Linked DNA regions of Homo sapiens. The protein of the gene in region 1 interacts with the protein of each later gene in a pairwise test. Each region holds a gene or a part of one and is shown on either strand. Other genes may lie near its edges. The genes, in order: CFAP36, SNTB2 and FCHSD2.

Region 1 (10,933 bases):
AGAAAAAGTTATTTTCAGGTAACTTATACCAGATCAGTCCAAATGAAAGGGTCTTTTTACACCCGCATCATAGGAATAGGAAAGTAGCCACCAATGGGAAAAAGTTGCAGTAGACCTAGCCTGATCTCTGGAGAGAGGTATAATGACTTGAGCTAAACAGCTTACTCCTTGGCTTCTGGATCTCACTATGGAGGTGGCATATTCTAGGTGTCACATGGTAGGAGGCTGGGCATCCAGATTCCACAGATTGAATAGCTGACTTGGTGATAGTAACCTTCAAGGGAGGGATGACAGAGGCGTCTATCCCAGATGAGTATCTTGCCGGTCTCCTTGTTTCCCCAGTTAAATGATTCTCAGCCAAATGCCTGGCAAAGAGTGTGCAGACCACTAATGGGGTCCACACAGAACTAAGAAATGGTAATGGACATTTCTTTTTCTTTTGGGCCTGTTGTGCCCTGACCTTTATGGGAATTTTGGAAGGAAGGGGCAGTAGTAGCTCCTAATTTTTAAATCTCCTGTGAGAATATATTAGATTTAGGGCAAAAGGATGCCTATAATCACAGTGTCACTTGCAGACTGTGGCCTTGGCCTTTGGGGTCACTTCTTCTCCAACTATACTACCACACATGACCATCTTCTAGCATCCTACAGTTCCCCCCACTTAGGTACTTTGTCCCACCTCCAAAGCAGAAGAGAGGATCAGAGGATGGGCCTGATGGGAAACTATGGCAGGAGCTCCAGGATGCAGTGCTTAATTTCGGGGGTTTGAGTGATTATGGAGAGGGTAGCAGATATGCAGTTGAACTCAACCCTTTCTTGCCACATCCCTCCTTGGATGGCAGGGGCAAATGGGAGCCTGAGACAACACAGAATGCTTTGAGTTTACAGGTTTGAGATGTAAGGGTGTTTGGTTCAGAGGACTGGTAAAGTTTTGATTTGGACTGGTTGTGTTGGTTGATTGGTGGCCTGAAAACTGGTCAGCACTGTATTTTTAGATTTTATTTTCCAAGAGCTTTTGAGGGGATATACTACTGTGTAAGTAATAGAACTTAGTTATGAACATGTATAACAGTTGACCTTGGTTACTTTCGAAAAGCACTGTCTCAGTGAACAGTTTACAAAAGTTGATGGGCTTTGGCACAGTGGTATCACAAGTGCTTGATGATAGCTCAGATGCCATTGGAACAATGACATTTTATCAAGAGGGGTATAATGGCTCTTATCAAGAGGGGTGTAATTGATCACTCTAAAGAGGGTGATTGAAGTCCTTATTAATGGGATTTGCCATTCAAATTTGGGTTCAGGATTTCAAATCTGTTGATCTTTATTCAGCTAGGGTTCATTCAGAGTTCTAGAAGAAATGGGTAGACCTGTATTTTGTGTTACTAACTGTATTATGCTGTATGCCTATGTATGTCTTTCCCAGTTGACTGTAAGCCACTTTAGAGCAAGGCTTGATTATCTTCCATCTTTGTGTCTAATGTGCCTTTTATTGTAAGCTTAGGTTAGCATGTTGCTTAGTTGAATATTTGTTCTTTGACCAAAAAAGGAAATTTATCTTTTTATCTTATTTTTGTATATTTCAGAAAATCAAAAGAGGAATATGACCAGGAAGAAGAAAGGAAGAGGAAAAAACAGGTGCCTACAGAACATATAACAGAAGTATTTTATTGCTGTTATCTCTTATTAAGTTTACACCTAGATCTTACTATTAAAATTTATACTTATGTGGAACTACATAATTTTAAGTACAATGTAAATATTGACCAATAATATTAATATATCAATAATTCTATGTATGTCGTGCATTACTGCTGGCCACCATATTATATAGTACTATATATACTTAACTGTATATAGTACAAACACCACATAGTACTAATTAATCTTACAGGACATGCATATAAGCAAGAGTAGTCATTTTTTTTGGCAAGTTTAAGCATTTGTTTTTAACTTTTTATACTTTTTTCTCCTTCTTTATTTTTGTCCTGGTAACTCACAGAACAACATTTTTTTTTTTTTTTTGAGATTGAGTCTCATTCTGTCACCCAGGCTGGAGTGCAGTGGTGTGATCTTGGCTCACTGCAACCTCTGCCTCCGGGGTTCAAGCGATTCTCCTGCCTCAGCCTCCAGAGTAGCTGGGATTACAAGCGTGCGCCATCACGCCTGGCTAATTTTTGTATTTTTAGTAGAGACGGGGTTTCACCACGTTGATCAGGCTGGTCTTAAACTCCTGACCTCGTGATCTGCCCGCCTCGGCCTCCCAAAGTGCTGGGATTACAGGTGTGAGCCACCATGCCCGGCCAGAACAACCTTTTATACTCTTTTATTTATTTATTTTTTTGGAGACAGTCTCACTCTGACACCTGGGCTGGAGTGCAGTGGCGCAATCTCGGCTCACTGCAACCTCTGCTTCCCAGGTTCAAGTGATTCTCCTGCCTCAGCCTCCCAAGTAGGTGGGATTACAGGCGTGTACCACCACGCCCAGCTAATTTTTTGTATTTTCAGTAGAGACAGGGTTTCACCATGTTGGCCAAGCTGCTCTTGAACTCCTGACCTCATGTGATCCACCTGCCTGCCACTGTGCCTGGCCAACTTTTTATACTTCTTAATATATAAAGTATATACTTTTTTTTTGAGACTGAGTCTTGTTGTATTGCCCAGGCTAGAGTGCAGTGGCGTGATCTTGGCTCACTGCAACCTCTGCCTCCCAGGCTCAAGCGATTCTCGTGCCTCAGCCTCCCCAGTAGCTGGGATTATAGGTGCCTGCCACCACTCTTGGCTAATTTTTGTACTTTTAGTAGACAGGGTTTCACCATGTTGGCCAGACCGGTCTCGAACTCCTGACCTCAGGTGATCTGCTGGCCTTGGCCTCCCAAAATGTTGGGATTACAGACATGAGCCACTGTGCCCGGCCAAAAGTATATACTTTCTTATAAGAGTGTATACTTTATACTTTCTTTTAAAGAGGCCAGACGTGGTGGCTCACTCCTGTAATCCCAGCACTTTGAGAGGCTGAGGTGGGTGGATCACTTGAGGCCAGGAATTCGAGACCAGCAACATGGCAAAACCCCATCTCTACTAAAAATGCAACAATTAGCCGAGCGTGGTAGTGCACACCTGTAATCCCAGCTACTCAGGTGGCTCAGGCATGAGAATCATTTAAATCCAGGAGCCGGAGGTTGCAGTGAGTCAGGATCACACTACTGCACTCCAGTCTGGGTGACAGAGTGAGACTCTGTCTCAAAAGAAAAAAAAAAGAAAACTATAATATCTTTGGATCCTTTAGGTAGTGAATTAGTTAAAATGAATCTAAATTGTGTGTTTTTTAAAAAATTGTATTATGGAATCCTGAAGTTATCAGAGGCTAAAACAGAAGAGCCCACAGTGCATTCCAGTGAAGCTGCAATAATGAATAATTCCCAAGGGGATGGTGAACATTTTGCACACCCACCCTCAGGTAAGGTTGAGGTGTACTGAACTTTCTCTAATAATATGAATACATAAACACCATATAGAATGTGCCACTTTCTCATACTTATTTAACTTCAAAAGCCCTGGGAGGGAGTATTGAATGTCTTTGGTATTTAACGTTCTTTGTGAATTTGGTTAAAGAGGTTGCAGACGAGATACTGACCTGAAAGAGAGCGTATAGTCCTCAAGTTTCCGTGTAAAGCCTGGAACCCAGAGTAGAGAGCAAAACTCCTTGAGGGAGTAACTAGCCTTTGTGCATGACTGCAGCTTACAAGAGAGGTTCACATAACATTTGGTATTCTCTTCCATGCTTACAGTTGTATGGTATTTGTTAGTGAGAAGCTGAACTTGGAAAGATAATATTAAATTTCTTTTCCAATGAATTAAGTACAGCTAGAAAATAAGAGGTAGCCATTTTGTCCAGATATTTGGTCAGAAATCATATCTTTGAAATCAAAATTTATAGGAATCCTTGTAGGAAATACTAGTGGATGACCTTTTCAACATGTGGCAAATCTATTCTCAATATGAACTGATTTTCTATATAAGAAAACAAGTAATTCTGAAACAGAAATTATGGTCATGAATTCAGTTCATTTTATTATGGATTCCTATGGTTTTAAATAAATGTCCTTTTCTCAATTAAAAAAATATACTCTGTGAGGTAGATATTATAATCCTTGTTTTTCTTTTATCTTTTTTTTTTTTTTTTGAGTCAGAGTTTTGCTGTTGTTGCCCAGGCTAGAGTGCAATGGTGTGATCTCGGCTCACCATAACCTCCACTTCCTGGGTTCAAGTGATTCTCCTGCCTTAGCCTCCTGAGTAGCTGGGATTACAGGCAGGCACCACCACGCCCAGCTAATTTTATATATTTAGTAGAGATGGGGTTTCTACATGTTGGTCAGGCTGGTCTCGAACTCCCAACCTTAGGTGATCTGCTTGCCTTGGCCTCCCAAAGTGCTGGGATTACAGGCATGAGCCACTGTGCCTGGCTACTCTTATCTTTTTTAAAAAAATTATTTTTGTTGAGTCGGGTGTTGCTGTGTTGCCCAGGCTGGGTCTCAAACTCCTGGCCTCAAGTGATCCTCCTGCCTCAGCCTCCCAAAGCACTAGGATTATAGGCATGAGCCACTGTACCCATCCCTTCTTTTTTTTTTTTTTAAAGAAATTCAAGGAAGCTGAGCGACTTGTCCAAGATCACCGAACTCTTCAATGGTGAAATTATGACTTACCTTGGTCTTCTGACACTAAATATATTCTTCTAAACCTTAGTTTAGAAGAACTTCTATAATTGAGATTAGTGTGATGTTTACCCATTAATTTTTTAATGTAAGTTGGAGAACACCTTTCTTTAATATGCCTAATTTAAGCTGTTTTAGGTTCACAGTAAAATTGAGCAGAAGGTACAGAGATTTCCCCCATATAGTCCCTGCCCTAGTACATGCCTAGCCTCTCCCATTATCGACCCCCTCAAAAGTAGTACATTTGTTACGTTGGTGAACCTTCCTTGACACAACATTACCAACCAAAGAGCATAGTTTACATTAGGGTTCACTCTTGCTATTGTATATTCTGTGGATTTTGACAAATGTATGATGACATGCATTCACCATTATAGTATCATGTAGTATACAGTTTCATTGCCCTAAAAATTCTTTGTGCTCTGCCTATTCATCCTTCCCACCTCCTAGCCCATGGCAACCACTGATCTTTTACTGTTTCCACAGTTTTGCCTTTTCTAGAATGTCATATAGTTGAAATCATACAGTAGTACGTAGCCTTTTCAGATTGGCTTCTTTCACTTAGTAATAATCCATTTAAGATTTCTCCATGTCTTGTCATGGCTTTGTAGCTCATTTCTTTTTAGTGCTGAATAATATTCCATTGTCTGGATGTGCCACGGTTTGTTTATTCATTTATCTGCTGAAGAAAATCTTGGTTGCTTCCAAGTTTTGACAATTATGAATAAAGCTGCTATAAACATCAGTGTGCAGGTTTTTGTTTGGACATAGCTTTCAGCTCCTTTGGGTAAATACCAATGAGCATGATTGTTATATCTTACAGTAAGAGTATGTTTAGTTTTGTAAGAAAGTGCCAAACTGTGTTCTAAAGCGGCTATACCATTTTGCATTTCCATAGCAGTGAATGAGCGTTCTTGTTGCATCCTTGCCAGCATTTGGTGTTGTCAGTGTTCTGGATTTGGAGTATTCTAGTAGGTGTGTAGTGGTATCTCATTGTTGTTTTATTTGCATTTCCCTGATGACATGATGTGGAGCATCTTTTCATATGCTTGTCATCTATGTATCTTCTTTGGTGATGAGTCTGTTAAGGTTTTTGACCCATTATATTTGTTGGGTTGTTTGTTTTCTTTTTGTTAATTGGGTTCATTTTCTTATTGTTGAATTTTAAGTGTTCTTTGTATATTTTGAATAACAGTCCTTTATCAGATGTGTCTTCTGAAAATATTTTCTTCCAGTCTGTGGCTTGTCTTCTCATCCTCTTGATACTGTCTTTTACATAGCAGAAATTTTAATGAAGTTCAGCTTATTAATTATGTCTTTCATAGGGTGTGCCTTTGGTGTTGTATCAAAAAAGTCATCACCATACCCAAGGTCACCTAAATTTCCTCCTATGTTATCTTCTAGGATTTTTATAGTTTTACATTTTACATTTAGGTCTGTGATCTATTTTGAATTATTTTTTGTGAAGGGTGTAAAGTTTGTGTCTAGATTCATATTTTTTCTTTCAGATGTCCATTTTCCTTTCCTCACCGTATTGCCTTTGCTCCTTTGTCAAAGATAAATTGATTATATTTATGTGAGTTTATTTCTGGGCTCTCTATTATGTTCTGTTGATCTATTTCTCCATTCTTTTGCAAATACCACACTCTCTTGATTACTGTAGTTTGAAGTCTCCAAGTTGGGTAGTGTCAGTCCTCCAATTTTGTTCTTCAATATTGTGTTGGCTATTCTGGGTGTTTTGCCTCTCCATATAAATGTTAGAATCTGTTTGTCAGTATCCACAAAATAACTTGCTGAAATTTTGATTGATATTGTATTGAATCTGTAGATCATGTTGGGAAGAACTGACATCTTGACATTGAGTTTTCCTGTCCATAAACATGGAATAGGCCGGGCATGGTGGCTCATGCCTGTAATCCTAGCATTTTGGGAGGCCAAGGCGGGAAAACTGTTCGAGCTCAGGAGTTCAAAACCAGCCTGGGCAATTTGGCGAAACCCTGTCTTTACAAAAAAAATACAAAAATTAGCCAGGCATGGTGGTGCACGCCTGTAGTCCCAGCCTCTAGGGAGGCTGAGGCAGGAGAATTGCTTGAGCCCACGAGGTGGATGTTGCAGTGAGTTGAGATTGCATCACTGCACTCCAGCCTAGGTGATAGAGTGAGACCCTGTCTCAAAAAAATAAAATAAAAAAATAAAAAAAAGGCCAGGAGTAGTGGCTCACACCTGTCATCCCAGCAATTTGGGAGGCCGAGGTGGTGGATCACTTGAGGTCAGGAGTTTGCGACCAGTGTGGCCAACATGGTGAAACTCCATCTCTACAAAAAATACAAAAAATTAGCTGGGCATCGTGGCAAGTTCCTGTAATGCTAGCTACTCGGGAGGCTGAGGCAGGAGAATCGCTTGAACCCGGGAGGAAGAGGTTGCAGTGAGCCAAGATCGTGCCATTGCACTCCAGCCTGGGCAACAAGAGCGAAACTTCATCTCAAAATAAAATAAAATAAAAACCATGGAATATTTCTCCATTTATTTAGTTCTTTGATTTCTTTCATTAGAATTTTGTAGTTTTCCTCATATAGATCTTGTGCATATTTTGTTATATTTTATATCTAAGTATTTCATTTTTAGGGGTGCTGTGCTAATGTAAATGGTATTTTTAATTTTAAATTCCATTTATTCATTACTGGTATAAAGGAAAGTGATAAACTGTTATTAATTTGTATCCTGTAACCTTGCTATATAATTATTCATTTCAGTTTTTCTGTCAATTGTTTTGCATTTTCTACATAGATGATCATGTGTTCTGCAAATAAAGACATTTTTATTTATTCCTTCCCAATCAGTGTACCTTTTATTTCCTTTTCTTGTCCTAGTGGATTAGGTAGGACTTCTAGTATGATGTTGAATCAGAAAGGTGAGAGAGGGGACATTTTTGCCTTGTTTCTGATCTTAGTGAGAAACCTTCTAATTTCTCACCATTAAGTATTGTGTTAAGTTTTAGAGTTTTTCGTACTCTTTATGAAGTTGAGGAAGTTCCTCTCTATTCCTAGTTTACTGAGAGCACCCATTAATTTTAAGGAGTTAGATTCTTATTTGACAGAAAAACAGGAGTATATTGAATCAGAAGCAGATCTGTGAAGTTACCTTGCTTCTTTGTACCAAGTCAAACCATTTCTTTTTTATATATATGCTACAGATTGTAAGGAGAAATAGCCTCATTTTAATGATATATATGAAAGCTCCTGCTTTAGGTTTGTCTGTGCTCTAGTTTGCTGACCCAAATTAACTTTGTTTTATATACACCTAAGTACATACACTATTTAAATCTTGTGTCTAACATAAATTGAATAAATTTGCTTTGTCTGCTTTCTTATCTAAGTGAAGCTATAGAAAACTTGATCTCAAACCACATATAATTCAGTTGTACACATTAATGGTACACCATAAATGGTAGATCTCAAAAGTAATGATTTCAATTTTTAAAATAATTTTTTTCAAATGCGCATATCTGATATTTCAGAGAATCACTTCGTACAAAGTGATGGAAGCCCAGTATGAAGACCTGAGTTTGGAAGAATCATGAAGTTGTTTGAGCTTCTGCTTTGTCCTTTTGCCTGTCTTTCCCTCATTCCTGCCAGCAATGGATAGTGTCTTTTCTCAGATTGATGCAGATTTGCCAGAGATGAGATGATCTTTCTTTAGGTTTTCTGGCTTTCTGATCTTCCCTTCCTAGAAATTAGAGAAGCTAAGTATTTGGCTTCAAGTACTTTCCTTTCTAGGCCTGAGAATATACGTATGTTCATAATTAACAAACCCAAGGCAAGAACTGTCCAGAGAAAGAACATGAGTGGAATATAAATGCTTATATGTATGGGTTCCCCCCTCCTCAGGAATTATTTGAACTGTCCCTTCTCCAGTTCTGTGAGTCCACTGAGGGCTAAGCCTACCTCTGCTAACGTCACTCTCAGTAATAACAGCGGTGTTTTACCTCTATCTTTATTTCTGTTAGTTATGTAGCTCCCTGTCTAGGTTGGTTTGGAGTGCTGGTTACAGCTTATCTTTTCCATGGAGATTTCCCTTATTGTCCAAGGGTCTGGAGAGCTTTTCTTCCTTCAACCTCTCTGGCACTGTAGTCAGTCTGGTCACTGCTAGAGGAGTGGTCTGTTGTCAAGTTTCTTGCACAGACAAAATTCTGTTTTCTGTTTTAGTATGTATGCTGGCAAGGTATTTTTTTTTTTTAACTGGCAGGATCAACCAGGTGTGGCAAAAATTTTAATCATTTAGACATGTGTGCCATGTTTTCCCATCATGCTTTTAGATCTTAGCATCATTTTAATGTCTTTGCTTGTCTCAGTGTGCTTTCTTTCATAGCCCATGTATTTACACTGAAAATGTTTTATCTTTTTAAAAACAATCACCTTATAATAAAAAATGGCTCAGAGGAGCAATTAGAATGTTAACTCTCTCTCTTGGTTGGCACAGTCACCAAATGGCTGGAAAGTATTTAGTGCTCATGTTTATATGTGCTTCCAAGTTCTGCTTGCTTTAGAAATCTTTACATTTTCATAATGCACTGGCAGGTTTATAGTTATCTTCAATACATAATTATAAACAAAAATTATTGACATTACTGGCATGCACTCTTGCAATACAAAAAATTATAGTTTTACATTAATTGTTCTGAAAGTATAGGGTGACTTTTTACATGCAAGCAAAAGTTTGGAAACCAATTACATTGTAGTAAGGGATTAGTATACTGTTTATTTGGATTATGTGGCAATCTTATATTATAGTGTAGTTCTAATCTTTAGACAAGGATTTTAGCTTTTTGTAGCTATAGTACTGTACAAACAGCAGAAGCATGGTACTTGTTGAGAAGTAGGTGAGAAACTGTAGTTCCAAGCTCCTTAAGGATAGAGACATGATGTTTACTGTTCTTACCCAGTGGCTGGCACAGTATAGGCACTGAATATATGTTGACTGAATGACTATGAGGAAAAACAAGTATTATTAACATTAGCTCATTTCGGTAAACCTAGCCTAACACTTAAAATATTTCTCATAATATTCTAATTGCTCTTATTGTCTACTTATTGCCAGAAGTTAAAATGCATTTTGCTAATCAGTCAATAGAACCTTTGGGAAGAAAAGTGGAAAGGTCTGAAACTTCCTCCCTCCCACAAAAAGACCTGAAGATTCCTGGCTTAGAGCATGCGAGCATTGAAGGACCAATAGCAGTAAGTAAACGACATCACTTAAGAACTATAAGCAAAATGACAAGGTACTGGGAAATCAAACTTCGAATTGAATCACTCAGTGGGCATCTGTGCTACTTACTAAATGGATTTGAATTTAGATAGCTCCTTTTCTTACTTGACCCAGAACTTATCAGTACTTGGAACAGAAGAACTTCGGCAACGAGAACACTATCTCAAGCAGAAGAGAGATAAGTTGATGTCCATGAGAAAGGATATGAGGACTAAACAGATACAAAATATGGAGCAGAAAGGAAAACCCACTGGGGAGGTAGAGGTATGGCTAGCCTTAATATGTCAAGATTTACAAATCTGGTGGTGGAACTATCAAAATCAGAATATGTGCAAGAAAGCCTCTAATAAATTTTGCTTGCAGACCCATTCATATTAATCACCTCCTAGTGCAGTAGCTGCTAAGTCTTTTCTAGGAAGTGAAATTGTTGTGATAAGGATTTTTTGAGGCAGAAAATAGCGGTGTCATTATACATTTTTTTCTTATGCTGTTTCTTTACTTGCCCTTCTCTGAGTATGTCAGGGTTGGTGGTCTGTTTCACCTGGGCATTCTGAAATGTTTTATCATAGAGCAGCATCAGTACCACCTTTATCATAGAGCACATCAGCCACCACTTCCCAGAGGGGTTCTCCAAGAAGAGACTTTACGAAGAAGAGATTTAGGAAACCTAGTCTATGTCTGTCTCTCCCTCCGTCCCACAAGAAGGTGCCCCCGATTTTTGTTCATTTGAGGCAGTATGTTGGGAATTTTAGACAAATTACCCTATTTCATACTGTAGCCAATTTTTTCTTTTTTTTTCAGGAAATGACAGAGAAACCAGAAATGACAGCAGAGGAGAAGCAAACATTACTAAAGAGGAGATTGCTTGCAGAGAAACTCAAAGAAGAAGTTATTAATAAGTAATAATTAAGAACAATTTAACAAAATGGAAGTTCAAATTGTCTTAAAAATAA
Region 2 (10,933 bases), on another chromosome or scaffold:
TTTTCAAAATGTGTTTACATAGTAGTCAGTTAAGACTTTTCTTAAGAGACAGGATATTGTTCTGTCACCCAGGCTACAGTGCAGTGGCACAATCCTAGCTCACTGCAGCCTTGAACTCTTGGGTTCAAGTGATCCTCCCACCTCAGCCTCCCAAGTAGCTAGGACTACAGGTGCATGCCAGTATGCCTGGCTAATTTTTTTTTAAAAAATCCTGTAGAGGCGAGGTCTCACTGTGTTGCCCAAGTTGGTCTTAAACTTCTGGCTTTTAAGCAATTCTCTAACCCTGGCCTCCCAAAGTGCTAGGATTACAGATGTGAGCCATTGTGCCCAGCAGAGTTAAGACTTTTTAAACATACTATTTCTTGAGAACCTACTATATGTGCTTGGCTCTGTGAAAGGGCCTTTATAGGTACTATCTCATTTAATCTGCACACTAAGTACCATTATCCCTTTTTTTAAAGATGATGACATGGTGGTGTATGGAAGTGAAGGGACTTGCTCAGAACCCTACTTTGAGCAGGTGACCTAGTTGGGATTCAAACCAAGGTCTGTCTGACTGCAGAGCTCAGTTCATTCCAGCAAACCACATAATATACTACAGAGCAGAAGCTTTAAAGCCTTAAACACCCAAGGAGGCCATTCAGTTTCTTGGTGTCTTCTGTGCTCCATTCCATCCTGATCAGGGACCTGGCTGTGCATTAAGATCAGAGGAGACCATAATAGTGAAAACACATTATAAAAAGTCTGTCCTTAACTATGTCTTTGGGCAAGTTATTTTCATCTTATTTTTTCCACTAATCTCTAACCTAACATTCGGTCTACCAGTGCCACTTCATTGAGTTAATGAAGACAAAGTTATAGAACACATATGATTATAGAACTAGGAGGGACATCAGAAATTATCCAATCTAATTTTCTCATTTTGCAAATGAGGAAACTGAGGTCAAGGGAAGCTAACTTGCCAGAGTCACACTGCTGGTTGATTCAGCCAGAACCATAATGCAGACCTCTAACTCTATACTACCTACAGTATAAGGAATTTCCATCTAAGGAGATATTTAAAAATTTATCTTTAACAAGACTTCTTTTTTTTTTTTAATATATATATATATTTTTTTTATTATACTTTAAGTTTTAGGGTACATGTGCACATTGTGCAGGTTAGTTACATATATATACATGTGCCATGCTGGTGCGCTGCACCCACTAACTCGTCATCTAGCATTAGGTATATCTCCCAATGCTATCCCTCCCCCCTCCCCCCACCCCACCACAGTCCCCAGAGTGTGATATTCCCCTTCCTGTGTCCATGTGATCTCATTGTTCAATTCCCACCTATGAGTGAGAAATGGATAAATTCCTCGACACATACACTCTCCCAAGACTAAACCAGGAAGAAGTTGAATCTCTGAATAGACCAATAACAGGAGCTGAAATTGTGGCAATAATCAATAGTTTACCAACCAAAAAGAGTCCAGGACCAGATGGATTCACAGCCGAATTCTACCAGAGGTACAAGGAGGAACTGGTACCATTCCTTCTGAAACTATTCCAATCAACAGAAAAAGAGGGAATCCTCCCTAACTCATTTTATGAGGCCAGCATCATTCTGATACCAAAGCCGGGCAGAGACACAACCAAAAAAGAGAATTTTAGACCAATATCCTTGATGAACATTGATGCAAAAATCCTCAATAAAATACTGGCAAAACGAATCCAGCAGCACATCAAAAAGCTTATCCACCATAATCAAGTGGGCTTCATCCCTGGGATGCAAGGCTGGTTCAATATACGCAAATCAATACATGTAATCCAGCATATAAACAGAGCCAAAGACAAAAACCACATGATTATCTCAATAGATGCAGAAAAAGCCTTCAACAAAATTCAACAACCCTTCATGCTAAAAACTCTCAATAAATTAGGTATTGATGGGATGTATTTCAAAATAATAAGAGCTATCTATGACAAACCCACAGCCAATATCATACTGAATGGACTTCTTTCAATTATAAAGTAATACATATTCATAGTGAAAAAAGTAATAACAACATTACAGAAAGACATAAAAGGAAGAAAAGATGCCCCCTCTTTCTTTCACCCCTTTAGTCTTATTTGACACCCTAGAGGTAAAGCCATTAACAGTTTCTTGTGTGTCTGTTCAAAATTTTTTCTACACATATACATGTATATATGTAGAATAACTTAAAATGTGGAACCCCAAAAATGCATCTCTCACCTCAGACAGATGTTTTCCTCTGTATAACTGAGTTAACAGAGTCATATAATACTGCAACATGTCCTTAAGTTTGTAAAGCTGTAGGTATGATGTTCTTGTTAGGTACACCTCACCTGTTTTCCAGATCCGGCATGCTTAGGTTTCTAGCAGCAAAGCACATTTTGAGAGGGATGATCTTCCTGTCCTTGGTGCTGTTCTGGTGTTTTGGCGAACCAGAGTCCTCACTGCCACTAAAGCTTGGTGACTGGGGGGCTGCACCTTCCCACGGCAGATCTGATACTAATGATGGCTTCTTGATATATGGTGTTACTTCTCGGATGAACTTGACTATGAACAAAAAAATCAAAGAAGAAGGTTAGTAATTTTGCTTCCTATAATAAATGATAACTAAAGTATTCACATACATGCTATATCTATAACAAAGTGGAGGAAAGAGCTGGGCGCGGTGGCTCACTCCTGTAATCCCAGCACTTTGGGAGGCCGAGGCGGGTGGATCACTTGAGGTCAGGAGTTCAAGGCCAGCCTGGTCAACGTAGTGAAACCCCATCTCTACCAAAAATACAAAAAATTAGGTGAGCGTGGTGGCATGCGCCTGTAGTCCCAACTACTCAGGAAGCTGAGGCAGGAGAATTGCTTGAACCCGGGAGGCGGTGGCTGCAGTGAGATTGTGCCACTGCACTCCAGCCTGGGCGACAGAGCAAGACTCTGCCTCAAAAACAAACAAACAAACAAACAAACAAAAAATGGGGGAAAAAAGTAAGTTAAAGAGCCATGAATCCCCTGGAGATAGATTCTAAGACAGACCCATCTAGGCTTTAGATGATTCAACCTTTAGAAACTTCTCCATACTTCTACCCACTGGTTCCCTGTCTTCTCAAGCCATATAGAACAAACTTAATCTCTCTTCTACATGAGAACTCTGTAATTATCTGAAGACAGATTTTTCTCTTCTCTCTCCTCCCCATACTAAGCTAAGTATTTCTATTTCCATTCAACTCAATCAACTTTTATTAGCTACCTACCAAGTGTTGGGAATTAGGCTAGCCAGTAAAGACACAAGGGCAAATGAGCCATGGATTCTATCCCTCAAGGAATGCCCAGCCTTGCAGGGGAGACAGCTATGTAAACAGGCCATTACAGTTCTTAAAATCAAGTGCAAAAATAAAGTATATTCAAGATAAGGTATGATCTAATAAGCACAAAGCCAACTCAACTGATCCCCCTTGCTTGTTCAAAATACTCTATTTCCATTAATGTGGCCCCAAATGAAAATCAAGCTTTTAGTAGATAGGAAGCTTTTTTAAGTTCAAATTTAAAACTCATAAAATACTTGTTTTACTTCAGTCATGACTACAATTACTGTCACTCGAGGCATGGTGTTCTTGTTTCAAAAACTAGACAAACTGGCTGGGCACAGTGGTACACACAGTTTCTCCTGTGAATAGGTAATACATGCACATAAAACAAAACTCAAGAGGTATAAAAGGTTTTATAATAAAAGTCCAGATTTCTAGCTACCCTGTCTCCATTCCTAGAGGCAACCATTCAAAGAGATGCCTGGTATGCTAAGCATGTATGAAAATAAACACATACACATGCGTGTATATCTGATCATACATATGGTGGTACATTATGCTTACCGTGCTGCACCTTAGTTTTTTTATTTAATAAGGTTGATAGTCTTTTATAGGCCTAATAGTTGATAGCTCATTCTACAGCATGATGTGGTCATAGAGATGCCTTTGGAATCAAGAAGACCTTGTTCAAATCCTAACTGTGCTTGCTATTCAAAGCTATGTGACCGCACTTAACTGTTCTGAGGTCCTCATCTACAAAATGGGAGTAACACTAAGCAAATAAAAATTTCAGGCACATACTAAACATTCAATAAATACAGTAGGTACCTTTCTTTTTCCTTCCCTAAATTAGAAAGTTAGAGAAGAGTTAAAAAATTTTAATGGTAATCAGTAGAAGAGTTAAAGTTATTTTCTTATACGTTATTAAAAAAGATTTACTGAAATTAAGTATAATAATAAAAAATATAACAATTCCAATGCTAGAATTTAGATGTAGTATATCTCTGTGCTTTTTGTGCATAGTTATAATACACGTGCTTCTGGGTAGCTGCCTCAGGTCACCAAGGAGATTTTTTTACCCTAGAAAAATCAGCAGGAGTGCAGTCAGTATAACCCTTGAGCAGCTGACTCAAGCATTTCAATACATACTTCAGCTTTATGCTTTGAAGGACTTTGGCAGAAATTCCTAAGGTTTCCAGTTACTGCAAATGGCAGAGGCATGCTTTTTGAACATTTAAGGCAGTACACTATTGGGCTACCAACTGGAGGAAATTAAAGACATTCTAAATGAATTCTTGAATAATATAGTGGTTAGAAAAGAACCCTTAACGATCTACTCAGTTCATTCAATCACACAGTAGCATCACTGAACTGATTACTACACACATCCTAAAACAAAAACAGACATACACATACAATTTATGTATTGCCTTATTAAAAGAGCAATGAATTTTATCTGAGTTGATGGCAATGCAGTCCATACCCCCATCTAATTAGCCATCCAGAATGGCTGAAGAGCTGTGGATGGACATCTGTTTCTATGTTTGGGAATGGCAAAAAGTTAACAGTCTTCTGTTTCAGTCCTATGTTAAGGCCTTAACCTGGACACGTGGCTGGATAAGCAGAGCCTTTACACCCCCACATGGAGCTTTCAGTTCAACTCAGAATCCACAACATATTTCAGAATCATTTCATTTTTCCTGATAGTTGAAGATAATCCTCAAAATAATTTAATTAAACACTGATGTTTACAAACTGTTTTGAGTGTTCAGATGCTGAAGCTAATTTTCTTTCTTCCATTCATGTATCCCTTTTTTTTTTTTTTTTTTTTTAAGATGCAGTCTCACTCTGTCGCCCAGGCTGGAGTGCAGTGGCACAATCTCAGCTCACTGCAAACTCTGCCTCCTGGGTTCACGCCATTCTCCTGCCTTAGCCTCCCCAGTAACTGGGACTACAGGCGCCCGCCACCACGCCCGGCTAATTTTTTGTATTTTTAGTAGAGACGGGGTTTCACCGTGCTAGCCAGGATGGTCTCGATCTCCAGACCTCGTGATCCACCCGCCTTGGCCTCCCAAAGTGCTGGGATAACAGGCTTGAGCCACTATGCCCGGCCTCACGTATCCCTTTTACTGAACGTGAAGGTGGGCTTCCTCCCACCCCAAAAGCATTACTGTGATCCCTTCTCTTCTTTAGAGTGACAAAAACACATACATGTACTGCACACATGTACCTGTAAAGATGTCTGGAAGGAACTTAATCAAAATATCAATAGTGCTTATATACAGGTGTAGGATTGCATTTTTTTCTTTATGTTGTTCTGTATATTTAAAATTTTTGTTAAGTCCATAGTATTTATTTTAAAAACGTATTTAAGAAATGAAGAAAACTTATTCTGAGACCTTGTTCAAACTCTATCTTAATTTTATTTTTGAGACAGGGTCTCACTCTGTCCCTCAGGTTGCAGGGCAGTGGCACAATCATAGCTCACTGTAACCTCAAATTCTTGGGTTCAAGTGATCCTGCCTCAGCCTCCTGAGTAGCTGCAACTATAGGCACACACCGACACATCTGGCTAACTTTTTAATTTTTTGTAGAGACAAGGTCTTGCTATTTTGCCCAGGCTGATCTCAAACTCCTGGCTTCAAGCAACCCTCCCGCCTTAGCCTCTCAAAGCGTTGGGATTACAAGCATGAGCCACCACCCAGCCTGTTGCTCAAACTTTAAACATGAAAGACATGTAAACGGAAATCTTGAGGCTTCAAAAACTATAATGCACTGGATAGGATCCAAAATCCAACTGATTCTTACTGAATTCTAAGCTCTAATGAATAAGGTTATGAAGAGTTCCATGTTTGGGGCATGAGGCAGCATCTGATTTTAAACTGAATGCAAGTGGCTTCTTTTTTTTTTTTTTTTTTTTTTTTGAGACAAGGTCTGGCTCTATCACCCAGGTTGAAGTGCAGTGGCATGATCTCAGCTCACTGCAACCTCCGCCTCCTGGGCTCAAACCATCCTCCCATCTTAGCCTCCTGAGTGGCTGAGACTACAGGTGCACACCACCATACCCACCTAATTTTTGTACTTTTAGTAGAGACAGGGTTTTGCCATTTGCCCAGGCTGGTCTCTAATTGGTGAGCTCAAACAATCCACCCGCCTTGGCCTCCCAAAGGGCTGGGATTATAGGTATGAGCCACTGCACCCCACCTGTTAAGTGGCTTTTTTTTTTTTAGTAGAGACGGGGTTTCACCATGTTGGCCAGACTGCTTGCCAACTCCTGACCTCAAGTGATCTGCCCACCTCGGAGTCTCCCAAAGTGCTGGGATTACAGGCTTGAGCCACCACGCCCACCCTGGCTTTTTAAAGCTTATCTAGGCTGGTGCTGAGCATGGTGGCTCACACCTGTAATCCCAGCACTTTGGGAGGCCGAGGTGGGTGGATCACGAGGTCAGGAGTTCAAGACCAGTCTGGCCAAGATGGTGAAACCCCATCTCTACTAAAAAATATAAAAATTTGCCGGGTGCGGTGGCAGGCACCTGTAATCCCAGCTACTGGGGAGGCTGAGGCAGGAGAATTGCTTGAACCCAGGTGGCAGAGGTTGCAGTGAGCTGAGATTGTGCCACTGCACTCCAGCCTGGGCTAGAAAGTGAGGCTCCATCACAAAAAAAAAAAAAAAAAAAAAAAAAAGCTTATCCAGGCCGGGCACGGTGGCTCATACCTGTAATCCCAGCACTTTGGGAGGCCAAGGCGAGTGGATCACTTGAGGTCAGGAGTTCAAGACCAGCCTGGCCAACATGGCGAAAGTCCATCTCTACTAAAAATACAAAATTAGCCAGGTGTGGTGGCGGGCACCTGTAATCCCAGCTACTTAGGAGGCTGAGGCAGGAGAACTGCTTGAACCCGGGAGGCAGAGGTTACAGTGAGCCAAGGTCATGCTATTGCACTCCAGCCTGGACAACAAGAGCAAAACTCCATCTCAAACAAACAAACAAATAAACAAAACGAAACGAAACAAAAACCTTATCCAAAAAGGATACATAATAGGGCAGACACAGCCTACGGCTGCAAACACACATATTTGGATAAATGGATCAACCTCTTTTATAAACATCAACTTCTCATATAATCGTTATGTTCCTTTTTATCTCTAACTCTTACCTTTTCCATGCCCCAACTGGTGATCTTTACTATGAGTTTAAGTGAAACTAAGTTAGTCACACAACATTATTTCCCCTGCTTTTGCAAGCAAGTTTGTTCCTGGATTATTCTCAGAGTGGAATATCTGGCTGTGCATTTTGCACAGGAATGAGTTATGTTGACAGTCACTGTTAAAGTATTCTCTCAGGAGGATTCTCTCCAACCTCATCCCAAGCTCTTCTCTCAAGTCAGGAGGCTGATAAATGACCACCAAAAACACGAGGAAGGAATTGCTTTGCTTTGAGTAAAAAGCCTTTTACATTCTCAACTTGCAGGTGTCTTTCAGCTCAAGTCTCCTGGCCATTTGGGGTTTGAGTAGACTGCAGTCTAGAGTCTGGTGACATGAACCTTGAATGAGTTCAGAGTGACTCTTTCACTCTTCCTCTTCATTCTAAAATAACATAGCAAATTCACTAATTTATTGAGCTCCTACTATATACCAGGAACTGTTTTAGGCATGTAGAATTATTAGCCAGTGAATAAAATATGCAAAAAATAATAATGTAATTAATAATTTAATGAAATTCTAGAGAAATGAAAACTTACATTCACACAAAAGCCTGTACACTAATGTTCTTAGCAGCTCTATTCGTAAGTACCACAGCTGGAAACAACCCAAATTTCCTTCAATGGAAGTGAATGGATAAACTGTGATACAGCTATAGAATAGAACACTATTCAGAAATAAAAAGGAACAAACTATTTATAACTCAGTAACTTGGATGAATCTGAAAGGCATTATACCAGTCTCAAAAGTTGTATGACCCCATTATTGAAAAGAAAAAAATATATGATGAAAAATTCAGTGGTTTCTAGCCAGGCGTCGTGGCTCATGCCTGTAATCCCAGCACTTTGAGAGGCTAAAGTGAGCAGATCACTTGAGGTTAGGAGTTCAAGACCAGCCTGGCCAACATGGTGAAACCCCACCTCTGCTAAAAAAACAAAAATTAGCCAGGCATAGTGGTGCACGCCTGTAAGCCCAGCTACTCAGGAGGCTGAGGCAGGAGGCTTGAACCCAGGAGGCAGAGGTTGCAGTGAGCTGAGATTGCGCCACTGCACTCCAGCCTGGGCAACAGAGCGAGACCCTGCCTTGACTAAATAAATAAATAAATAAATAAATAAAAATAAATTCAGTGGTTTCTAAGGGTTAGGGGTGAGAAGGGATATGATTATAAAGGGATAGCACAACAGAGTTTTCTGAAACCATGGAATGGTCCTGTATCCTGATTGTGGTGACAGTTACAAGAATTTATGTATGTGTCCAGATTCATAGAACTGTATACCTTAAGGGGAAAAAATTCAATTGTACAGTATGATAATTACAAAATAAAATAAGTAAATTATACAGTATATTGGAAGATGTTAAGTGTAATGGGAAAATGAAACACAGCAAGGGAAGGGGTCAGAAATGCTGCCCAGGGTGTCAGTTTGTAAATTTTAAATATGGTAGTTAGGGTAAGCCATTAATAAGATGTTTGAACAAAGACTTTAGGAGATGGGGGAGTTGGCCATGCAAATATCTGGGAGAAACATTCCAGCCAGGGAGACAGTGTTAGGACAGTAACAGGAGTTACTAACAGGAGTGTTAGACAGTAAGGAGACCCAGAGTAACTGGAGCTGGGTAAGTGAGGGGGACAGAGTAGTAAATGGGGTCACAAAGGTAACGGGGCTGGGAGGCAGACCATGTACGGCCTTTTAGGTCATGGCAAGGACTTTGGCTTTTATTCTGAAACAGGAAGCTATTGGGAGATTTTCAGGAGCAAGTGACCACTATGTTGAAAATAGAATAAAAGAAGGCCAAGGCAAAAGCAGGAAGACCAGCTGGCAGGTTAACAGGGATGAGAGATGATAGGAGTTGGACCAGGGGAATAGTAGTGGAGGTGGTGAGAAGTGGTCAGATTCTACATCAGATTACATAAGGGGGTGGCAAAAAGAAGAGTCAAGGATAATGTCAAGATTTTTGTCCCGAACAAGGCTAGAAGGATAGCGTTCCCCTTGACAGCTTTAGAAGAAAGATCAGGAACTTGAGACATACATTAGACAATCAAGTCTAACAGGCAGCTAGATATATAAGTCTGCAGTTCAGGAAATGGGTGTAGGCTAAAAACATAAATTTGGGAGCTATTAGCATATAGTTGCTATTTAATGCCATGAAACTGGATAAGATCACTGTATCAGTCAGGATCCCAGCAGGAAACGATAGTAAGGGATTTAATAAAGGGACAACTTATGAAGATGTGGGCAGAGTGCAGGGAAACCACATGGAAAAATAGAGTGTAGTATCCCATGGCTATTAGCTGTTTCCACATGTAGGCCTGAAGGAAATAGGAAAGAGAGTGGGTACCAAACCCAGAAGAAAAGAGCCCTATAGAGACCGATGTGAGAGGAGCAGTGACTTTCAGTCAATTCAGCCAGATTGCACTGACCTGCGAATTGGGGGCCAAGGGGATAAATGCTCCAACCTCACCCTCCTCCTTCTTTCCCTCCAATGTCCTATTGGGGCTCTACATTGGCCAAACCCAACAAAAACCAAAGGCCAAGGAAGTCTGCTGATGTTGTCCACGCAGGTCAGCGTCCGGGACAGATGGCATGTAGAGAAGGAGCGGACCTAGAAGAGCCAATGGAAGACTTCCAGCACAAGCAAGGAAGTGAGTACGGAAGAGAAAGCAGACACTCCACTATTAAAGGGCTGGGGAGAAAAGAAGGAGGTAGGCAGAAGATCCACGAAACACAAGTGCTCCATAGAAATACTGGCTTAACAGGCATGGTGGCTCATGCCGGTAATCCCAGCACTTTGGGAGGCCGAGGCAGGAGGATCACCTGAGGTCGGGAGTTCAAGACCAGCCTGACCACATGGAGAAACTCCGTCTCTACTCAAAAAATACAAAATTAGCCAGGCATGGTGGCACATGCCTGTAATCCCAGCTACTCGGGAGGCTGAGGCAGGAGAATCACTTGAACCGGGGAGGCGGAGGTTGCAGTGAGCCAAGATCGCACCATTGCACTCCAGCCTGGGTAACAGAGCAAAACTCTGCCTCAAAAAAAAAAAAAAAAAGAAAGAAAGAAAGAAAGAAAAAAAAAGAAATGCTGGCCTAAAATAGTACCAAGTTTATCCAAACTGAAAAAGCACTCCCTTGACCTGATGAACCCAGACTTGGCTCTTCCCTCCCTTCACCATTCCTTGAAAATCAAAACAAAACAATTTCTGCTTATTGTTTCTATTTTCTCCTTTCACTCCTTAATCTCTTCTGAATTAAAACAGCATTCTAAAGGGTTATCAATGTTTTCTTACCCAATCCAAAGGCCCTTTCTCAATCCTTATGCTCGACCATTCCAATATGTATGGCAATGCACTCTACCAGCTGTTTTGTATTCCTTCTTTCTGGCCATTTATTTTTTAAGTGCCTTTTTTCTCCTCCTATCC
Region 3 (10,933 bases), on another chromosome or scaffold:
GATAATTGTGGGATGACTACATGAATGTTGGAAGGGAGGCGTGAATACATGAATCTTCTCTTGCCCCTGTTCTGGTGGAGGCATGTGTGAGAAGGGGCAATGCGGAAGGCTATCAGAAGGGAAGGTCCTGGAGAGAGAATCCACCTGTCATGCACCAGATTCACTCCTCCGCCACATCCCTGTGTAGCCAAAAGGTGGCAGTGTTTGGTAACCTCAATATCAGTGATTCCCAGACTTGTTTTGAGTTTAACATCCTTTCATTTTATATTTAAATTCATAATACTTCCTGTTCATTGAAAGTGTTAGCATTTTTTTCCAATGTAAATCGTTTTGATAATCTTTTGAAAATTTAAAATCATCTTCTCAGATACTTGGAAAGGTATTACAGGGTATTATAAAACTAGCATTGGAATTGTTTCCTGATACCACCTCCCATTATATTTACTTGAACGTCCCAGAACTAAAATTTAAGTTCCTTAAATAGAGAGATTCCTAAGTGTCTGAGTGATTTTAAACAGTTCACATTCATTCAACATTCCCTCTGTTGGCATATCCCAGGCACATCCCTGCGTTAAATAGACTATGAACATCTATTTAGTCAGTTAATCATTGAATAAACATATAGAGTGCCCAATATGTGATACACTGGGGGGATGCCAGAATGAATATGACATCTCTCCCCTCTAGGAATGGACAATCTATGAAGGGTTAAATATTAAACTGGAAAATAGAACAAGTGTGAAAAGATTTATAGTAAAGGTAGAGCCACTAATTCTACCTGGATCATTGGGAGAAATTTTACAGATGAGGTGGCATTTAAAGTAGGTCATGATTTAAGACCTTTCTAGATGCAGTGAGAAGGTAGGGAGAGGAAAGAGCCTTCTAAGCAAAGAGAACAGCAGGTATAGAGACAGAGTGTGATGAGAGTGTGGGGTGTTCAGGAAATGTTAAATTCAGTGGTGTAGGAGTGGGAGAACAGAGGGGCTGTGCATAAAGGTGTTTGTTGTCAGATAGTAAAGGGCCTTGGGTACCAGACTTAGAGGTTTGGTTTTTATCCTGGCTAGGAAGATCCTTAGATGGCCTGAAATCAGATTGGACTTTTAAGAAGCTAACCTGGTCATGGTATAGATATTCTAGAGGACAGATTAGGATACAGAGGGACTGACTTTAAGCCTAATCATAATTCTTATAGTCCAGACCAAAAAGGAGGCCTCGAATAATCTGGTGAGAACAAAGAAACTATATTTAATGGTTAGAGTTGGCCGGGAATGGTGGCTCACGCCTGTAATCCCAACATTTTGGGAAAATGAGGCAGGTGGATCACTGAGGTTAGGAGTTCAAGACTGGCCCAACCAACATGGTGAAACCCCATCTCTACTAAAAATACAAAAATTAGCTGGGCGTGGTGGCGGGCGCCTGTAATCTCAGCTACTAGGGAGGCTGAGGCAGGAGAATCACTTGAACTCAGGAGGAGGAGGTTGCAGTGAGCCAAGATCGCACCATTGCGCTCCAGCCTGGGTGACAGAGCGAGACTCTGTCTCAAAAAAAAAAAAAAAAAAAAGGTTAGAGTCAAAAGCCTTAAGAATGTTCATAACTTTTGACCCTATTAGCATCCATCCTAAGGAAGTAAATCATAATATAGAAAAGTTTTGGACACAAAAATGTCCTTTCATATAGTACTGCTTTATAATGTATGGCACTTCTGCCCAGCCAAACTTAATCTTAGTTTTCATATTTCTTTGACTCCCCGCTAAAGGTCCATGAAGGGAGAAGTTTTGTCTCTGTATGTTTACCTTGTCTGTGTGTCTTCAGCCCCTAGGACAATGCCCAGCACGTAGTAGGTCATTAGTAAATAATTGTGGAATGAATACTTGAATGATGGAAGGCATGAACAAATGAATCCTTCCCTTGACCTCATTCTGATAGAGACATCAGTGAGGATAATAGAGCTCATGACTGGATGCAATGGCTCATGCCTGTAATCCCAACACTTTGTGGGGCCAAAGCGAGAAGATCACTTGAAGCCGGGAGTTTGAGACCAGCCTGGGCAACAAAGAAAAACCTGGTCTCTACAGAAAAATTTTAAAATTAGCTGAGCATGGTGGCACATGCCTATCGTCCTAGCTATTCAGGAGGCTCAGGCAGGAGGATCACTGGAGCCCAGGAGATCGAGGCTGCAGTGAGCCATGATTACACCACTGCACTCCAGCCTGAGTGACAGAGTGAGACCCTGCCTCTAAAAAATAAATTTTAAAAAAATTTAAATTTGGCAGTTCAATGAGAATAATTAAACTAGACATTCATATACTATAGCCATAACATATAATATTATGAAACTTACTGAAATTTTCATCAAGAGTTTTTCTATATAAGAAGAAACCCTTATGTCCTAATATTAAATTAAAAGGTAGGATACCAAATTGTATGTACCGTAAGAGCTCAATTATGCATATTTTCCAGCTTTTCTACGATGAACATGTATGATATAATCAGGAAAAACATATTGTTTTAAAAGAAATACAGGAAATTTGGAGAGATACTGGTGGAAACGGAGCTCTGGTTGTCACTGGATACTAGGACTTAAGGAGACAGTATGAGAGTATGTGTGTATTTAATAACCATTTACTGCTCACTGTCTTTAGTTGGGGTAAGTGAGAAGAAATGTAGTCCCTAATTATTTCTAGTAGGAAGCTCACAAGGACAAACTCATTAGAGCATCATGGTAGTCAGTGTTATGGGGACGCTCAGAGAGCCTTTTAAGAACAAAATGGGGGCTGGGCACGGTAGCTCACGCCTGTAATCCCAGCACGTTGCGGGGCCAAGGCGGGCGAATCGCGAGGTCAGGAGTTCGAGACCAGCCTGACCAACATGGTGAAACCCCGTCTCTACTAAAAATACAAAAAATTAGCCAGGCATGGTGGTGTGCACCTGTAATCCCAGCTACTTGGGAGGCTGAGGCAGGAGAATTTCTTGAACCTGGGAGGCAGAGGTTGCAGTGAGCCGAGATGGCACCACTGCACTCCAGCCTGGGCAACACTGTGAGACTCCGTCTCAAAAAAAAAAAAAAAAAGAGCAAAAGGAGGAGCAGCTTACTCATCATGAGTAGTCTGGGAAAACATATGCGCTCAGTCTCAAGTCAAAAGTAATCGTAACTACTTATCTATCTATCTATCTATCTATCTATCTATCTATCTATCTATTTATTTGTAATCCCTTCAATAACCCTATGAGGAAGATATTATCAAACACCCCATTCATTCAACAAATAGTGCTTGAGCACCTTCCATGTATCAGTGCTGTGGGCTTTTCTAGGCTCTGGGATATAGCATTGATCAAAACAGACAAAAATCTTTGCCCTCATTGAGCTTATATTCTAGTACGAAAAAAGAAAACTGAGGTTCAAAGGTATCTTACAGTCACTTGCCCATAAAAATATACTGAAGCTGGACTTAAACCCACAGTAATCTAAGTCTGCTCATCAGATAGGAAAGAGGGAACAGAGCCTGATGGACGGAAGAACACCTATAAAAGCACAGAGGCAAGGAAGAACATGGTATGCTCAGAGAATAGAAATAGTGTGCAGGGGCCAAAGCGTCAAGAGGCCCACAGGGACCAAACTCTGCAGGGTCTTGATAGCCATGCAAAGAACTTGACCTTGTTAGGTGGAAGAATTGGTCATCACTGCTTTAGGATGGGATGATCAAGCTAGTGTCTGCTTACATTGGACAACTAGTGCTGCAGTGTTGAAAAACTTGCATGGACCTCCATGGTTTTTGTTTGTTTGTTGTTGTTTTTTTTTTTTTTTTTTTTTTTTGAGACAGGGTCTTGCTCTGTCACCCAGGCTGGAGTGCAGTGGTGTGATCTCGGCTCACTGCAACCTCTGCCTCCCTGCAACCTCTGCCTCCCTGATTCAAGTGATCCTCCCACCTCAGCCTCCCAAGTAGCTGGGATTACAGGCACGTGCCACCACACCCACCAATTTTTTGTATTTTTCATAGAGACAGGGTTTCGCCATGTTGCCCAGGCCGGTCTCAAACTGCTGGCCTCAAGTGATCCACCCACCTTGGCCTCCCAAAGTGCTGGGATTACAGACGTGAGCCACCTCACTCAGCCTCTCCATAGCTTTTTATAAGGGCAGCAGTTTATTTAAAAGTGTACTACCTCCCTGGTTTGCTGTCACATACATTAACGTCTGGTCGTGTTGATACTTTTTAGGTCTTGCCATGAAAAACATTTTTATTACAAAAATGCCTTTTGCTGGCATATTCAAGGCATAGTGTGGTTTCAGAGTAGTGAAGGAATTCCATTGGAAAAGCTATCAAGGGTAAATGAGTGGGGTTTTTTCCTCAATATTATTTTTCTGTCTCAGGGAGCTATGGCAACATCCAGAATCTGGATTTTGATGAAATGTTTTAATGTTCATAAAATGGGAAATTGATCTTGAAAATGACCCCTTTTTTGCCTTATTTTTGTTTGTGTAACTTGGAGTTAATTTTACATTTTGAGATTGTGAGATTTTAAAAACTTTATGGTTTTAGGTGATGGTTTTAACCCATCTTGGGACTTGGGGAAAGCTTTTAAGACTGTTTTCTAGAGAGCCAGAAGCCAGCAGGCCCCTGTCTATTACACATGACAGGCAAGACTGTTAGGAAGCAAAGCCACACGGACTTTCCAGCCCCTCTGTGGAGCCTCAGAGCGTTTACAGATTTGGCAGTCTCAAGGGCAACATGTGGGTGGCTGATGCTGGTGGATTGCTGCTGTCAGGGATAATAAAACCATTATGGTTAGCAGCTTGTACGGTAGCACGCAAATGGATCAGCTCAGTCTCCACACAGTTAAGTTGGAGCATAAGAAATCCAAACCATGACTGATCTCAATCATTTCCTTTCCTACAATTTTTTTCTTTTGGCCACTGCTTTACAGTGATTCCAGATCAATCCTAGGCACTGCACCCACTATCATCAAATTCACGTACATAGTTCTTTGCATTTTCACTGCATGCTTGTCCATGGGAGCCCTCTGGTAGCAGTTCCAATTCAGTGCCTTCTCGTTTGCCTTTGCTTCCCAAATCATCACAGTTCTGTGCTTATCCATCCCACATTGACTCACATCCTCCAGAAAATGGCAGGATTGTCATTTCAAAGAAATGGAGGCATCAAGTTGAATAACTTGATACAGAAGCTGGAGTTGGAACCCAGGTCCTCTACTTCCAGGAAGTGCTCTCTTTTTTTGTTTGTTTTTTTAGAGACAGGGTCTCGCTCTGTTGCCCAGGCTGGAGTGCAGTGGCTCACTCATGGCTCACTGCAGCCTCAACCTCCCAGGCTCAAGCGATCCTCCCACCTCAGCCTCCCAAGTAGTTGGGACTACAGGCATGTTCCACCATGCCTGACTAATTTTATTTATTTATTTACTTATTTATTTATTTATTGGTAGAGATGGGGGTCTCGCTGTGTTGCCCAGGCTTACATGTTCTGTTCATTGAACGTCATTGCCTCTTGAGGATTCAGTTTCTTGAGTTTTTGTTATGGTTTTATTCTGTTTAGTTTTTTAAAGTAAAACTTCACCTCATTATGAAAGTTTTACAGCATTTAAATTTTTATGTTCAACATGTTTCTCAAAATCATTTCAATATTTTGATCCCCAGTTTTTGTCATGATCAGCTCACATCTGCTCCTTATCTAACCTTTTTAATTTTGTCCATGACCATCCTACACTGCAGGCTTCTCAACCAGATGAGTTGACCATTGAGGAACATGAGGTGTTAGAAGTGATTGAAGATGGAGATATGGAAGACTGGGTAAAGGTATATTCCTTTGCTCATATCGCCCTTTCTTGTGACATTTTTAGGAGTTTGTTTTGGTCTTTGTTGTGCCCTGTCTAAATTGTGTGTGTAAACTTGTTTTGTCACATGTCTTTTACCCAGGCTCGAAATAAAGTTGGCCAAGTGGGTTATGTGCCAGAAAAGTACCTACAGTTTCCCACCTCGAACAGCCTCCTGAGCATGCTGCAGTCCCTGGCCGCTTTGGACAGTCGGTCACACACGTCCAGCAATTCCACGGAAGCAGAACTCGTTTCAGGCAGCCTCAACGGAGATGCCAGTGGTAAAGACTGAAACAAGGCACTCTTTATTTGGTCACGTTTGACCTAAACTGTATTGCCCTGGAGTAAGCCTTCAGTAGGATAAAAAGCACAACTTTCCTCCTGTCCTATAATATGCTTTTCTTTATATGGTCACGTTTGTCCTGCACAGTAGAACCCTAAAGTTAATCATTCATCAGTGAGTAAAAAAATTACAACTTTAATCCTATTCTGTATGATGCTCTTTTAGTTGTCATGTGAGCATAGGGGTGGTTGCAAAAGCAACCGGCTGTTAATTATCTTACCAGATTTGTTTTTCTCTTGCTCCCTAGTATGTTTTGTGAAAGCACTTTATGATTATGAGGGCCAGACAGATGATGAGTTATCTTTTCCTGAGGGAGCAATAATCCGTATCTTGAACAAAGAAAACCAAGATGATGATGGCTTCTGGGAAGGGGAATTCAATGGGCGTATTGGAGTTTTCCCATCGGTGCTAGTGGAAGAACTTTCAGCCTCAGAAAATGGTGACACTCCATGGATGAGAGAGATTCAGGTACCTGAGAGGGGAGACAGTTGAATTAAAAGATGTTTAAAGAAAATTGCTCCCAAAGGGTCTGTGGATCCACACAAAAGTGGGCTGCAGTCTCTGCCTTACCCTCACCGGTCCTTGGTTGCCAGTGTCTGCACAACTGCATTTGGGAAACCAGAGACTTGTCAGTCAGTCCCTTGTGGAATGTGGCCATCCTCCCACACCTCCATCTTCCCACATTCTCTCTCTTCCTTGAATTGGTTAACCAAAATGCCAAATTATATGTGACATACCAAAGATCGTTTTGGTGGAGAGAAAGAAACAAACCGAAGAGGGAAGGCGTTGCTCTGTGGTTAATTTACGTAGTAAAACTCTTAGCTGGCTCTCTCTCTCCCTCACTGTCAGAGCCTCCTTGCCTAGTCCAGGTCCTGCCAGTCTATTTCAGAGAATTAATGAGCCTGCCAGAGCCCCTAATCCCCACTCAAGTGACCCTAGACTTAGTTCATCACAGGGAAACAGCCTTTAAAGGAACCTCTAATTCAGTCAGAGTTTAGTTTGTCCCCTCAGGGATCTATCACTGCAGGCCAGACAGGTAGAGGAAGAAGGAACGTGTTTGCCGATCTTGTTTGCGTGGTGATTGTGACCCCTTAGCCTAACATGCACAAAACCTGGGGAAGTCAGAAATTCAGCAAAGTATTTTATCTTCACCCCAAAAAATCCAACTTGTTCCTTTTGTTGTTGTTGTTCTTTGCTAAGTTTACTGAATTGACTAATTTGGTACATTTTCAATAGAACCCTAGAGAGTAGCTTCACTTGATAACTGTTTAAGATAAACTAAAATCAGTAATGTGATGAGATCTGTAAGAGGAAAAAGTGAAGTGCAATGCAAAATTGGAGCTTGAGGTGGTTATTTAATGCTCAGTTGCCTCTAATGAGGTTGACAAGTTTCAACAATCAGCTTAGCTTTAGAGAAAAGGCATGAGTACAGAGCAGTCAGAGAAGCAGCCAGGCTCTCCTTCCTGGAGGGGAGCACCGGGTAACCTCGCTTCCCTTTGCTGCAGATCTCTCCTTCCCCCAAGCCACACGCCTCCCTGCCTCCACTGCCGTTGTACGACCAGCCTCCCAGCAGCCCCTACCCCAGCCCAGATAAGAGGAGCTCCCTGTACTTTCCCCGGTCTCCTTCAGCAAACGGTAAGGGTTCTCCTGGGCATGGGTCTAAATGCATTTTCACTTCAGAAACCTACATATTCGCCTGAAGGGCAAAAAAAAACTGCATTTGCTTTTTTTTTTTTTTTTTTTTTTTTGGAGACAGAGTCTCTGTCACCTGGGCTGGACACCCAGGCTGGAGTTCAGTGGCATGATCACGGCTCATAGCAACCAATTCCTGGGCTCAAGTGATCCTCCTGCCTCAGCCTCCCTAGTAGCTAGGAATACAGGCATGCACCACCACACACAGCTAATTTTTGTATTTTTTCTGGACAAAGGGTATTATTCTGTCACCCAGGCTGGAGTGCAGTGGTGGGATCATAGCTCACTGCAGCCTTGAACTTCTGGCCTCAAGTAATCCTCCCGCCTCAGTATCCCAAAGTGCTGGGATTACAGGCTCAAGCCACCATGCCAGCCTTGCATCAGCATTATTGCTCAACAACTCAAGTAAAATGAGCTTCTTTGGTTTTCTCCCTTAGAAAAAAGCCTTCATGCTGAGTCACCAGGATTCTCACAGGCATCAAGGCATACTCCTGAGACCTCATATGGCAAACTGCGACCTGTAAGTCTCTGATCTTGCAGGATTATCGAATGCATAGTTCTTCCAAATTGAAAGTAAGGAATTAATGTTTCCCCGTGGCCCCTGTGTTGTTACTGACTATGCCAAACAAGGATGAACTGGGTTTGGGAAGGTAAAAAGAGCTATTGAAAAGGAAGGCCATAGAAATCAACTCATCTCGGGACATTTAATCTACACTGGAACTTTTTTCACTGAGCCACAGTGAGATTGCAAGATGATGGCTATGAAAGTGATTTAGAATAGAACAAACTTTATGAGCATTAAAGCGGGCTAATTGTGAAACACTTTTTTCAGTAAGCATTTAATTTTCCAGGCCTCTATTTGCCTCTTTGAGGAATACCAAGATGAAATAATAAGCTAACTTCATGGCCTTAAAGAGCGTTTATTCTCCGGGTGAATATATTATTGCAAAGTTACCTCTCCTCACCCTTCACTCTACTGCCATCTGCATTCCACCCACCACTGTACTCCAAGGTCATAACTTGCACGGTAATCCAGTCGGATACTTTGCAATTTTATTTTCCTTGACCCCTATTAGCTTTTGATACCATTCCTTTACCACTGGCTTCTTTTGGCTTCATTCATTCAGCAAATATGTATTGAGTGCCTTCTTAAGGACTTGAGTCTTTATCCCAAATGAGACAGGAAGCCATTGTAAAGTGGTAAGCTGGACAGTGTTGTGGCTGGTGCATTTTTAAAGCATCGCTATGGCAGCTAAGAGGCGGATGGATGGAGGGTGGCAGAAAGGATATAGGGAGCGATTAGGAGGCTGGAGCAGCATCCAAGAAAGAAGTGGTGGCAAGATGGACTGGTGGGTAAGAGTGGGAAGAGAGAGCAGTGGGCTGATGTGCTTCTCTACATTTGCCTCGTTTGCTTTCTTCCTCTCTGGTCCTACCTTTCTGTGGACCTTTGCAGCCTTGCCGCCACCTGTCTCTGCTGATAATTCTCATGGTTCTGTCACTGGGCTGCTTCTCTTGAAGTTGTTGAACGCACTCTTGCCGAATGACCTCATCTACTTCCACAGCTATGATAACCATTTATATGCCAGCAAGTCTCAGATTTATAACTGCCAATCCGATCTCTTCTCTTGAGCTTCAGATGTGTGGATATCTCAGTTTATATATCCCAGATCCCCAAAACTCAGCAAAAATGAGTTATGTTCCCTTCCAGACATGTTCCTTCTCCCATATTGCCTATCTTGGTAAATGGAACCCCCATCCTACTGGTGTTCTGGCATCATTCTTAATACCTCCTGCCCCTGCCTCCCACAGTCATTCCCAAATCCTGCCAGGTATACCTTGCAGAGAGCTCGCAAATCTTTCCACTTCTCTACTTCCCCTACTGCCAGTACCCTCGTTTGGGCTATTGTCAACTCTCATTCAGAGGATTACAAAAGTCTCCTAAGTTGCCTTCTTACTTGGACTCTTGCTTGCCTCTGATCCTTTCTCCAGTTGTTACCTGAGTCATCTTTTCGCAGATCTGATATTGCTTAAAATCCACCAAAAACTCCTCTTTTGCCTACAGAATAAAGCACAGATTTATTTTTTTCTTCTTAAAGCAGATGTTTAAACATGGTTTAACAAGGCCCTTCACAACTTAACCCTAGCCTACCTTTCTAGCCTTCTCTTTTGTAACTCTCTACCCAAGACACACTGAAATGTTTCATTTCTCTAAGCATTGCTCTCCCTTGCTTCCAGCCAGACCTTTGCTTTGGAGGATGTGCTAGGATCTTAGTCATAGGACTTGTGCCCATGAGGTTTTTAGCCTAGGCAAGAAGCTGATTTGTGGGCTTGATATTTCATTGAGAACAACTGCTTCTCAGTGTAGGAAATAGTGAAGACTAGGTTGAAAGCACGTGCTCACAACATTTCTGAGACCCCTAGGGTGCCCATGTCCTTGGACAGATGAGTGATTAGGTTTTGGGGATGCTTCAGATACTGAGTCAGGAACTGACTGACAAACTACGTAATTGTTTCCTGCTCAGGTCCGGGCAGCTCCCCCTCCACCTACACAGAATCACCGAAGGCCAGCAGAGAAGATTGAAGATGTGGAAATCACACTGGTGTGATGATGGGCTTGCCCATCCATTACTGCTACAATCAAGGCCAGGCTTGGAGTTTGGCCAGTCTTGTTTTTTAGGCACCTTTGCATGATGATGACTCTTGAACAGAGCAAAAAACAAGGAGGATTATGTGTGACTGGGTGGCCTGGTAGACTCCTCCCACGTTTTGAATATTTCGTGCCTTTTTTTTTTGTTGTCATTTTCTATGTCATTTCTCCTACCATAGCACAAATCCTAGCGGACCCTAGGAGCAAAGAGGGGGGCAGCCCTCATGCCTAACAGTGGTCTGTTTTTATATGAGACTCAAGAACAGGCCTCATTCCAGGGCACAGTCCCTAAATTACTGATCATGTGCACTCGTACAGTATATTACTGTGACCACAAGGATGTGGCAAAGATTCTCATCTTTCTTCAAGTGGCTTTTGCTCATCTGATTGAGAATTAATCAGATCATGTTGGCTACATAAGGAAACAGAAG

The links.
Region 2: the proteins of CFAP36 (region 1) and SNTB2 interact in binary tests that used the Homo sapiens proteins (3 or more experiments, as listed by UniProt).
Region 3: the proteins of CFAP36 (region 1) and FCHSD2 interact in a two-hybrid assay, tested with the Homo sapiens proteins (one study listed by BioGRID and IntAct).

Annotation. Positions count from the first base shown.
Region 1 is NC_000002.12:55,534,126-55,545,058, forward strand, and holds part of CFAP36 (cilia- and flagella-associated protein 36), read left to right. Parts: intron 1-1,586; coding exon 1,587-1,638; intron 1,639-3,357; coding exon 3,358-3,460; intron 3,461-9,812; coding exon 9,813-9,949; intron 9,950-10,094; coding exon 10,095-10,244; intron 10,245-10,781; coding exon 10,782-10,883; 3' UTR 10,884-10,933. UniProt on the Homo sapiens protein: May act as an effector for ARL3.
Region 2 is NC_000016.10:69,237,235-69,248,167, reverse strand, and holds part of SNTB2 (beta-2-syntrophin), read right to left. Parts: intron 2,567-10,933; coding exon 2,353-2,566; intron 1-2,352. UniProt on the Homo sapiens protein: Adapter protein that binds to and probably organizes the subcellular localization of a variety of membrane proteins. May link various receptors to the actin cytoskeleton and the dystrophin glycoprotein complex.
Region 3 is NC_000011.10:72,838,319-72,849,251, reverse strand, and holds part of FCHSD2 (F-BAR and double SH3 domains protein 2), read left to right. Parts: intron 1-5,511; exon of another isoform or gene 5,512-5,719; coding exon 5,720-5,803; exon of another isoform or gene 5,804-5,923; coding exon 5,924-6,101; exon of another isoform or gene 6,102-6,410; coding exon 6,411-6,631; coding exon of another isoform or gene 6,632-6,635; intron 6,636-7,668; coding exon 7,669-7,798; intron 7,799-8,292; coding exon 8,293-8,375; intron 8,376-10,377; coding exon 10,378-10,461; 3' UTR 10,462-10,933. UniProt on the Homo sapiens protein: Adapter protein that plays a role in endocytosis via clathrin-coated pits. Contributes to the internalization of cell surface receptors, such as integrin ITGB1 and transferrin receptor.